Regions from separate parts of the Homo sapiens genome. Here region 2 is linked to region 1. A link means that fine-mapping ties the variant in region 1 to the expression of a gene that starts in the linked region. Tissue or cell type: whole blood. Region 1 holds a variant in brackets; the other region holds the start of a gene. All regions are shown on one strand. Distances are from middle to middle.

The links. PIP is the estimated chance that this variant, and not a neighbour inherited with it, causes the effect.
Region 2: MARCO starts here. The variant in region 1 is fine-mapped to the expression of MARCO in whole blood (TOPMed, PIP above 0.99).

What each region holds. Positions count from the first base shown.
Region 1 is chr2:118,899,954-118,905,101 of GRCh38, reverse strand. No RefSeq gene overlaps it. Among named protein-coding and RNA genes, the nearest start is that of MARCO, 40 kb to the left of the region's middle. The variant G/A (reference allele first, on the strand shown) is at 2,481.
Region 2 is chr2:118,939,798-118,944,945 of GRCh38, reverse strand. It overlaps MARCO (macrophage receptor with collagenous structure), which reads right to left and starts at 2,752. Exons shown (of 17, transcript NM_006770.4): 1 at 2,549-2,752. The coding sequence starts at 2,645.

The DNA of each region.
Region 1 (5,148 bases):
CCTAACCTCCTGCAGCCAACTGGGCAGTCGAGCGGTAACTGAGGGGGAGACAATGGGATGCTGGGCAGCACTGAGCAGCTGTCCTCCTGGGAGACGCCTCAGTGTTTCCTGCACTGGTCTGATTCATGGGAACTTAGGCAGAAGAGCATCCCATAAATCAAGTGTGTTTGGGGATTTCTGAGGACAAGGGAAATGGAAACCTTCACCTTATATAAAGGTGGACTTTGCAGTATTAGAAAGATAACCAGAAAGGTCACATATACCATTCCTCCTCACTCCACCCTCAGCAGGAGAATGGAAGCACAAATGCATACACACACATATACAGACAAATACACACATGCAGGCATATACACCATGCACCTACTCACAAATACATGCACATAAACTCACATATACACAATATACACACATACAATCACACAGTTACTCCCACACAAAAAAAGGCACATCTCTCTTCCTTCAAAACAATTTAATGTTTTGGGGAAAACTATTCTGAAATCAGAAATTCCCTGGCCTGTATCCTCACCATTAAGGGGGTCAGAATTGCCACACTGGGTCAGCTTCTTGGCTTTACCCAGGCCAAATTTCTGTCTCTGCTGGAAGTCCCAGGGAAGTGTTTAATGGAAAGATGGGGACGTTTTTCCTGATATCAAATTCTGAGTGTTCCCAATGTGAATGTATTAAGTTTCCCTTCATACGCTCCAATCTGGGTCTGTCATCCTTCTCTTAAATCTAGTTATAATTTCAGCTGCCAGTTTATTTCCCAAAGTGAAAGTAGCAAACAGGACTTTAATGAATCAATCAGCAAGCGCTGTTGTGCAAACAGGAGCTGGGTAAGAAATGGATATTGTACTGGGAAGCAGCAGTCCTGGTTCCCGGGTCTCCTGCACCACTAACTGGCTGAGAACCCAGGAGTCACGACCTCTGGAGGTCTTGGTGTCTGCATCTGCACATGTGAAAAATATTAATACTTCCCTGCCTGAAGATGGGCCTGAAGGTTGTCCCTGAGGCTGAACCGTCTGCCTAGCACTGTGTTCAATGCTGAGGAGCTTGTGAGTCTCAGCTCCTCCCCTTGAAGCTCTGAATCTTTCTGTGCTTATTCATAAAGTGTCAGGGGTGAGCATGGACCTTCCTCTTCTAACTCTTGAGGCGAGTTTTTGGTGTAAGGGACTCAGGTTCTCGAATCAACCTTACAGCAAACACTACTGGGGACTTCACAACTGTGCTGCTCCCCTTTCTTGCCAACAGAATTAGGTGACCTTGTGCTTCAGGGAGAATGGGTCCCTCATCTGCCCCAGGGAAAGGAGCTCAATCCGTCCAGCAAATCAATGTTGATTTTGTTCCCTTGGATACTTGAGTGGGCATGTGACACAGATCTGGTCAAGGAGGCTTGAAGGAAACTCCACTGCAGAAAGGAGACTTCTGGAAAGGCTGTGCTCATTCTTAGCAAGGGACACGTGAAAGGGAAGCTCTCTCTCTCTCTCTCTCTCTCTCTCTGACCCTTGGATATTTCTGTGTGAGGATGTGATGGCTGGAGCTGCTGACGCTATTTTGTCCCTCTAAGGGGAGGAAATGAAGTGCTGGCCATGGCAGGTGGAAAAACATCTGAGTCCTCAAGGACATCATTGAGCTTCAGAATTGTCCAAACTTGCAATTACTCTGTTTTCAGACTTTTTTCTGCAGGAGATAATATATGTCCTTATTGTTGAGCCACTTTCTGATGGATTTTCTTTTCCCCACAGCCAATAGCATCTTAACTGTATTGGTCAGGTTAAGTTAGGTCGTGCATGATGACAACCATGCTCACACCCCAGGGGTTTTATACAAGTTAATTTCTCACTCAGGTGCCATGCCCCTTGGGGATTGGCAGGGGAGCTCTGCCCATCTCAGCTGCTCAGGGATCTGGCTATGGGAGGCTGGGAAGAGAGTCTTGGGAATGGCACACTGGCCCTAGAAGCTTTCTCCCTGAGTGACACGTGTCACTCCCCACACATTTCACTAGTTAAAGCAAGTCAAACAGATATGCCATATTTCAAAAGTGTGCCACCTGCCCAGAGAGTGAAAGCTGGAATGATGTTGGGGAAGACACTAATTCTACCACAGTAACTGACATAAACTCTAAAAACAGGAAGTCATATGGTGCCAGACCAACAATTTAACTTCCTTGAACTTTGGTTTCTTCATCTATAAAATTTAATTTCTTTGAATGCTTCCTGTTTTTCCACTGTGGTGAGGTTACAATGAGTAATACATATGAAGGTGTTTTTAAAAACAGAATAAAGCCTATGGGAGCGAGTGGCCGAGGAGGTGTTCGTGCCATCTCAGCACAGATCACCAGATATCTCCATCAATGCTTCGATCAGATGTGCAACTTTCTCAGTCTCTGCCACACGTCTGCAGCCAGGCCACTTTGGAGACACTGGATATGTTCTATTTCCAGGATAAAACAGAGAAAGATGTTTATTCTGGAGGTGGAG[G/A]TAGAGGTGGGAGACGGTGGGAGACAGGAAATGGGGTAGGAATTATTCTCCCTATGGCACTTCTGAGAGGCTGGAACAGTCAGCTCAGGCTGCCATAACAAAAGACCACAGACGAGTTGGCTGAGATATCAAGAATTCACTTCCTCTCAGTTCTAGAGGCTGGAAGTTCCAAAATGAAAGTGTTGGCAGGTAGCTTTCTTCTGAGGCCTCTCTCCTTGGCTTGCAAGCGGCTGCCTTCCTACTGCCCTTGCGGGGCCGGCCCTCTCTCCACTCACATGGTAGGGTCTCTTTTTGTGTCCCAATTTCCTTTTCTTATGAGGACACCAGTTAGACTGCACTAGGGGCGTCCTTAACTGCCTCATTTAACTTAATCACCCCTTTGAAGACCCTGTCTCCAAATACAGTTCCATTCTGAGGTCCTGGGGTTAGGACTCCGACATCTGAGATTTGGGGTTGGGAGACGCGACTCAGCCCATAACACAGGCTGTTCTTTTCCTCTCAGTGAGAAGATGTCCACAGGAAAACACATGCTAACTTCCACTGCAAGTGAGAGAGAAGGAGCAGATCAGGGAGAAGGGAAGGAAGAGAAGAAGGAAAAAGGAAAGATCCCTGGGAGGGGCAGGGATGAGGCACACAGCCATCCGCAGAGGGCTTCAGTGGGTGTGGGCATCACTCAGCTCTAAGGGCCCACCCACCCGGACATCAGGGCCAAATCTACAGACAACAACAGACACAGAAGCAAAGAGAGTCCACTGAAGCCACTTCAGGCCAAGGTATGGTGCCAGCTTGCTGTGTGCAGAGGGATTGGTGGTAATGAAAGCCAGTGCCGGAAGGAGGAGCCAAGATGGCCGAGTAGGAACAGCTCCGGTCTACAGCTCCCAGCGTGAGCGACGCAGAAGACGGGTGATTTCTGCATTTCCATCTGAGGTACCGGGTTCATCTCACTAGGGAGTGCCAGACAGTGGGCTCAGGCCAGTGTGTGCGCGCACCGTGCGCGAGCCAAAGCAGGGCAAGGCATTGCCTCACCTGGGAAGCGCAAGGGGTCAGGGAGTTCCCTTTCCGAGTCAAAGAAAGGGGTGACGGATGCACCTGGAAAATCGGGTCACTCCCACCCGAATATTGCGCTTTTCAGACCGGCTTAAAAAACGGCGCACCATGAGACTATATCCCACACCTGGCTCAGAGGGTCCTACACCCACGGAATCTCGCTGATTGCTAGCACAGCAGTCTGAGATCAAACTGCAAGGCGGCAAAGAGGCTGGGGGAGGGGCGCCCGCCATTGCCCAGGCTTGTTTAGGTAAACAAAGCAGCCGGGAAGCTCGAACTGGGTGGAGCCCACCACAGCTCAAGGAGGCCTGCCTGCCTCTGTAGGCTGCACCTCTAGGGGCAGGGCACAGACAAACAAAAAGACAGCAGTAACCTCTGCAGACTTAAGTGTCCCTGTCTGACAGCTTTGAAGAGAGCAGTGGTTCTCCCAGCACGCAGCTGGAGATCTGAGAATGGGCAGACTGCCTCCTCAAGTGGGTCCCTGACCCCTGACCCCCGAGCAGCCTAACTGGGAGGCACCCCCAAGCAGAGGCATACTGACACCTCACACGGCAGGGTATTCCAACAGACCTGCAGCTGAGGGTCCTGTCTGTTAGAAGGAAAACTAACAACCAGAAAGGACATCTACGCCAAAAACCTATCTGTACATCACCATCATCAAAGACCAAAAGTAGATAAAACCACAAAGATGGGGAAAAAACAGAACAGAAAAACTGGAAACTCTAAAACGCAGAGCGCCTCTCCTCCTCCAAAGGAACGCAGTTCCTCACCAGCAACGGAACAAAGCTGGATGGAGAATGATTTTGACGAGCTGAGAGAAGAAGGCTTCAGACGATCAAATTACTCTGAGCTACGGGAGGACATTCAAACCAAAGGCAAAGAAGTTGAAAACTTTGAAAAAAATTTAGAAGAATGTATAACTAGAATAACCAATACAGAGAAGTGCTTAAAGGAGCTGATGGAGCTGAAAACCAAGGCTCGAGAACTACGTGAAGAATGCAGAAGCCTCAGGAGCCGATGCGATCAACTGGAAGAAAGGGTATCAGCAATGGAAGATGAAATGAATGAAATGAAGCGAGAAGGGAAGTTTAGAGAAAAAAGAATAAAAAGAAATGAGCAAAGCCTCCAAGAAATATGGGACTATGTGAAAAGACCAAATCTACGTCTGATTGGTGTACCTGAAAGTGATGTGGAGAATGGAACCAAGTTGGAAAACACTCTGCGGGATATTATCCAGGAGAACTTCCCCAATCTAGCAAGGCAGGCCAACGTTCAGATTCAGGAAATACAGAGAACGCCACAAAGATACTCCTCGAGAAGAGCAACTCCAAGACACATAATTGTCAGATTCACCAAAGTTGAAATGAAGGAAAAAATGTTAAGGGCAGCCAGAGAGAAAGGTCGGGTTACCCTCAAAGGAAAGCCCATCAGACTAACAGCGGATCTCTCGGCAGAAACCCTACAAGCCAGAAGAGAGTGGGGGCCAATATTCAACATTCTTAAAGAAAAGAATTTTCAACCAGAATTTCATATCCAGCCAAACTTAGCCTTGTAAGTGAAGGAGAAATAAAATACTTTATAGACAAGCAAATGCTGAGAGATTTTGTCACCACCAGGCCTG
Region 2 (5,148 bases), 40 kb before region 1:
ATAAAGAAAAGAAAGAGTACCTTAATTCTAGTGCAGATAATGGAATGAAGGAGGCTTGTTCTAATGAGGGAGGCTGGAGGTGATGGCAGGAAAGAGGGATGCAAGTTGCACTGTGCTTCTAGAGGGTACAGTGTGAAATTTACACTCCTCATCCTTTTTTTAAGATTAATTTTAGAAAAAATGAAGGTTATATTCCAAAAGTTTCCCAAACTCACTTCTAAAATTTTCTTCAGCATGTGTTGAAAACTTTCCTAGTCCAGTATCCTTGGGTAATAATAATAAAAAAAAACTAGTTTAATACTTTATAATCAGGGAAAAACAGCATTTTATATTTCAATACCAACAATAGAGAAAAATAAATGAGGAAAATGACATTAGAAATATTTTTCAGTGCTGTTTTTCATGAACCATATGTGGGAATTTTAAGATAATGTATTTTCAAAAGAAAATAAAACTATATATGGCCTAAATAAATAAATCTTCAGCAGACAAAAAATAAGTAATGTGCAGAGCCGGCCCTGAGGGGTCACTGTGTTACCAGAGCCTCACAGTGATTACCTGCATAATGGCACTCTTCTAGAAAGTTTCATATGTTCCACAATCTTTGTATTAGAAGGCAGGATGTTGTGAATGCATATAAGAAAATGTTTCTTTCATCCAAATTGGAGTAGTTTTGGTTTTTTGGTGAGATACTTTAAACATTTTATTTATTTATTTATTGGTGGAGATAGGGTCTCACTATGTTGCCCAGGTTGGTCTCAAATTCCTGGGCTCAAGGAATCCTCCTGCACTGGCTTAGTTACATTTTTAATTGGTGACACACACAACCCAGGTCAGAAATCTAGGGTTCACTATTAACTCCTGCGTCTTCCTCCCCAGCCCTGTCCTGCCATTGCAGTCCAATTGATCTGATTTCCGGTGTTTCTCCAGAGCATTCCTTTATTTTCCTGCCTTCCATCCACTGCCCCTCATCATCTCTTGCTGCCAAGTTCCTCTCTGTCCTCAGCTTCTCTCTCCAGCCATCCCTATGTAGGACAAAGAGCAACCTCACATGCACATTAGTGCCTTTCAGCCCCACATCGGCCCCTTCCTGCTTCCCCACTGACCTCAGGATGAAGTCAAATTTTTTGGTTCCAGCCTCAGTCCCCACTGGTCTTTCCGTCCCAATTTTGGCCAAACAGTATGGAAGTATTTATATTTCTCTGAATATTTCTTGTGAATACAATACAAACATGTGGCGCCCACCCCGCCCCAGGCACTAACTTCTTTCTCTAACGGACTCCCTTTATCCTTTAAACTTTGGAAGAGGTGTCAGCTCTGCCCTCCAGGGCTCTACACCTGGTTAGATCTGTCCATCATGTCCTGTGGAAGTCTCAGTCACAACATGGAAATTGTCAGTTCATGGGCAGCTTACCCTGTCCCCTGTCCCCTCGTGCCAGAAGCCAGAGGCCAGAGGCTATGTTTATTCAAGCCTGTTTCCTCAGTGCTGAGTGCAGTGCCCTGCTGGAAATAGGTGCTGAGTATGCTTGATCAGCTGACTTTGCTTGAACATCTTCAGTCTCTTAAACAGTCATGTATCCAGAATGTTGCATTCTGAGAAGTTCTAAATAGCCAATGATTATTATAGCCATTAGCACTCACACCTTTCTCTGTTATTACACTGTAAATTCCTAGAGGCAGAGCCCCAGACGCTTCATCTTTGTGCGCTGAAAATTCCAGGCAGGGACCTGGGCAGACAGGTGTGGGATGAGAAGGACACTCTGGCCAGGAGATAAAGCCACCAATTTTCCTGCATAGACAACTTCCAGCAAAGCCTGGGAGTGGAAATGACTGATCAACTTGGAAGATGATCCCAAGAGAACGTTCTAGACTAGGAAATCAGAGCTCATTTGTGGAATGCAAGCCCACCCATGACTTCAAATGCTACAAATTCTAGAAGATTTTAAAAATGCATCACCTGTTGAATGCTGAGTGAGAAAATAAAGACAACAGAGTTGACTGAATATTACAGACCTGAGTTTAACCTAAGACAAACTAATTATGAAGCTATGAACATATTTCAGTCAACATGAAATACAGAATATGTTTCCTGACCAGCACATCAGTTATAACAGAAATCCCCTTAAAGAATTTTAAAGAAGCTGTGTTTTGAAAACTGTCATGCTTGGCTTCAGTTTTGTGGTCCCCTTTCAGTGCCCCTGTTTTGCGTTTTCATTGTATCACCCAACCTGTGTGTCAGAATAAGACATTCATTAAAAAAAGGGGACATTTAATAAGCATTGGCATTTTTTCAAGGGAAAATATTTAAATATGATTAAAACAATAGTGAAGCTAAGAAAAACCTGACTATATGCTAAAAATACAGCATCTATTATTAGCATTCCAGAAATTCCAAATTGAAGCACTCCAGACAGTATTAGTGATGATTACGTGCAAAATGCAGCAATAAGCCAAACCTAGACTTTCTATTGACTTGTCTATTTTCGTATCTCGCTAGCAGAAAGACTACATTTCTGGTCATTTCCATTATTGGGGAATCGTACTTTACCATTGATTTCGAAAGGCTCCATTGCAATTTGGTGAAAAGCAGCTTGTTGGGTCTCACTCAAGAGCTCGTCCTCCTTGAGAATTTTCTTATTTCTCATTGCCAAGCTTTATAGATGGCCAAAGTCCTGGAGCCAGCAGAAATGCTCCCCTCAAGAGGAACCACTTGGAGAAAGATCCTTCCCATCGAACCACTGCAGCTGGTTGTAAACCTCGCAGCACTTCCCTTTGGCTCTGATTTCAGAATTTGCAGGATGTTTCCTGACATGATCAGGATTGGACATTTCTCAAACACGGGCTATTCACATGTGGATCTCCCACACAGTGCTGCTGCTTGTTAAGGGGGATCGAGGAGGCTTTGGGACACAAGTTACGGGCCTCTGAATGCACCCGTCACTCCCAGGTCCCTGAGACCCAAAAGCTGGATGGCTCCAGAGAGGGCCAACCAAGCCCTGCCATGGGCCCAGACTCAGCTCTCTGTCCCAGGACCTCTCCAGCCCACAGTGAAATCTCCCTTCTCTGACCTGCCTCAACCTTTAGAGTTCATCCTTGCTGCTCAAAGTGTGGTCCATGGACCAGCAGTATTAGTATCACCTGAGAACTTGTTAGAAATGCAAGTTCACTTGTTCTAACAATGAGTCTCTGGTCCCACCCCATCAGATCAAATCCAAATCTACAGTTTAACTAGATCCCCAGGTGATTTATATACACATTACAGTTTGAGAAGCCTTGCTCTGAACCACACATTTTAGCACTTAGTATTTCTTCTTGTAGTTTTCCCATGTTCTCTCTCTGTGTGTGTACACATGTGTGCACATGTGTACATGTGTTACAGGTGTCCTTGTCCAGGCCCCAGTGAGATCTGAGCTCCTTAAGGAAAGTAGCTTCTCCCCTCTCTCCCTCCCGTCAGGCATCTCTACCAGGGATGCTGTATAGCATGGTGGTTAAGACACAGACACTAAGAGCTAGAATGCCTGGCTTCAAATTCCACCTCTTCCACATAGGGGCTGTCTGGCAGTAGGCAAATCACTTGAGCTTTGAGCATCTCACTCTTCTGTTTGTATAAATAAGGAAGATATGAATTTCGTGAGCCTTAAATGAATTAAATCATATAAGGTGGCTAGGATGGAAGTATTAGGTAATAAACACTATGGTCATGTTGTTGTTATTATCATTAGAGACATTGTGAGCCTGCTGGGCACCGAGGAGATGAAGAAATGGCCTTTTTTCATGAAAGATATTCACAGTCTACCATGCAAGATGGTTGCGGCTACAACTACATTCCAGAAAATTGCTGTGAAGTGCGGCAAAGGTTGATGTCCCTGAAAAGACAGAAGTGCCGGGAGGCAGGGGAGACAGGGCAGAAATATGACAAATAGCTTTATCATCTGAATCAAGAGATATCAGATACCAGAGCTGGGCTTAAAAGGATAATGGGGGATTGATCCAGATCAAGATGAGGCAAAGGCCCTCCAGGGAGGAAGGAGGGCAGGTGCAGCCTCTCAGAGGTGGGACAGCCTGGAGCAGGGGAGCCGTAGACTTTTGGCCTATTTGAAATGTAAGAGGTGAGGAAGACAGGTGGCAGGAAGTGAAGCTGTGCCAGGCGAAGTCACTTTCTTTGGCCCGTGGTATGTCAGAAAGTGAAAGGGGATGAAACTCAGGAAAGTGAGCTCCTAGCAGTGCCCTGAAAAGCAGAGGTCCCCCGTGGCGCCCACAATTTCAACATTCAGGAAGTCACTGGTTCCGCCAGAGGACAAGCAGCAGAAGCCAGGACAGAAAAATTTAAAGAGGAAAATTGGAAATGAGGAAGTGATGGCTCCAGCTAGAGTCTGGGGGGTAGACAGGACCAGATAATTGAGGACACAGGGGATTTGCCCACTGGAGGGCAGTCCCCTAGGCAAAGGAACCCGCTCACTTAGCCTGGCAGAGCTCCCTGCTCTCCCTCTGCCTCTGCCTGGTCAGCTCATCTTTGATTCTCATGGGTGTGGGGAGGGGACTTATTAGAAAATGTCATGGGCTAATTATTGAGGATCCCTGTTCTTAAAGGAAGCACTTAGTGGATGTCAAGTGTAGTCACTTCACCTCTGGCTAGAGACCAGAGAGACTTGGGTCCCAAATTCAACTCTTTCATTAACTTTCTGTGTGACCTTGGTTGACTTACTTCTCTGAACTTCCACACAGAGTAATGGCTTGTGCAAGCATTAATTCCTATCCAGGATTTACTGTTAATGCCAGACACTGTGCTAAACATTTGCATACATTGCTCAACACTCATAACTTGCAACTTGCCTTAAATTGTGTGGTTATAAAGAGCTACACCAGAATTTGAATCCAGACTCTCTGCCTCAATCTATAGACTGATTTAATTCTGGTTTAATCCAGGGGTTCCAATCCAGAGGTTTGCAGTAGAGGAATGCCAGTTTCCCATCCCAAACCTGAGGCTCTGGTTTTAATAAAAATTTCAGAAAGAGCTCTAATGTGCACCAGGCTTAGGACCACCGAGTGGTATAATTGAAGCACTCATGTGCAGTGTGGCCTCCTGACTCCATCCTAGGAGGATCCATTAGGTTGAATCATATGGAATGACAGATATTTATCTGTTTT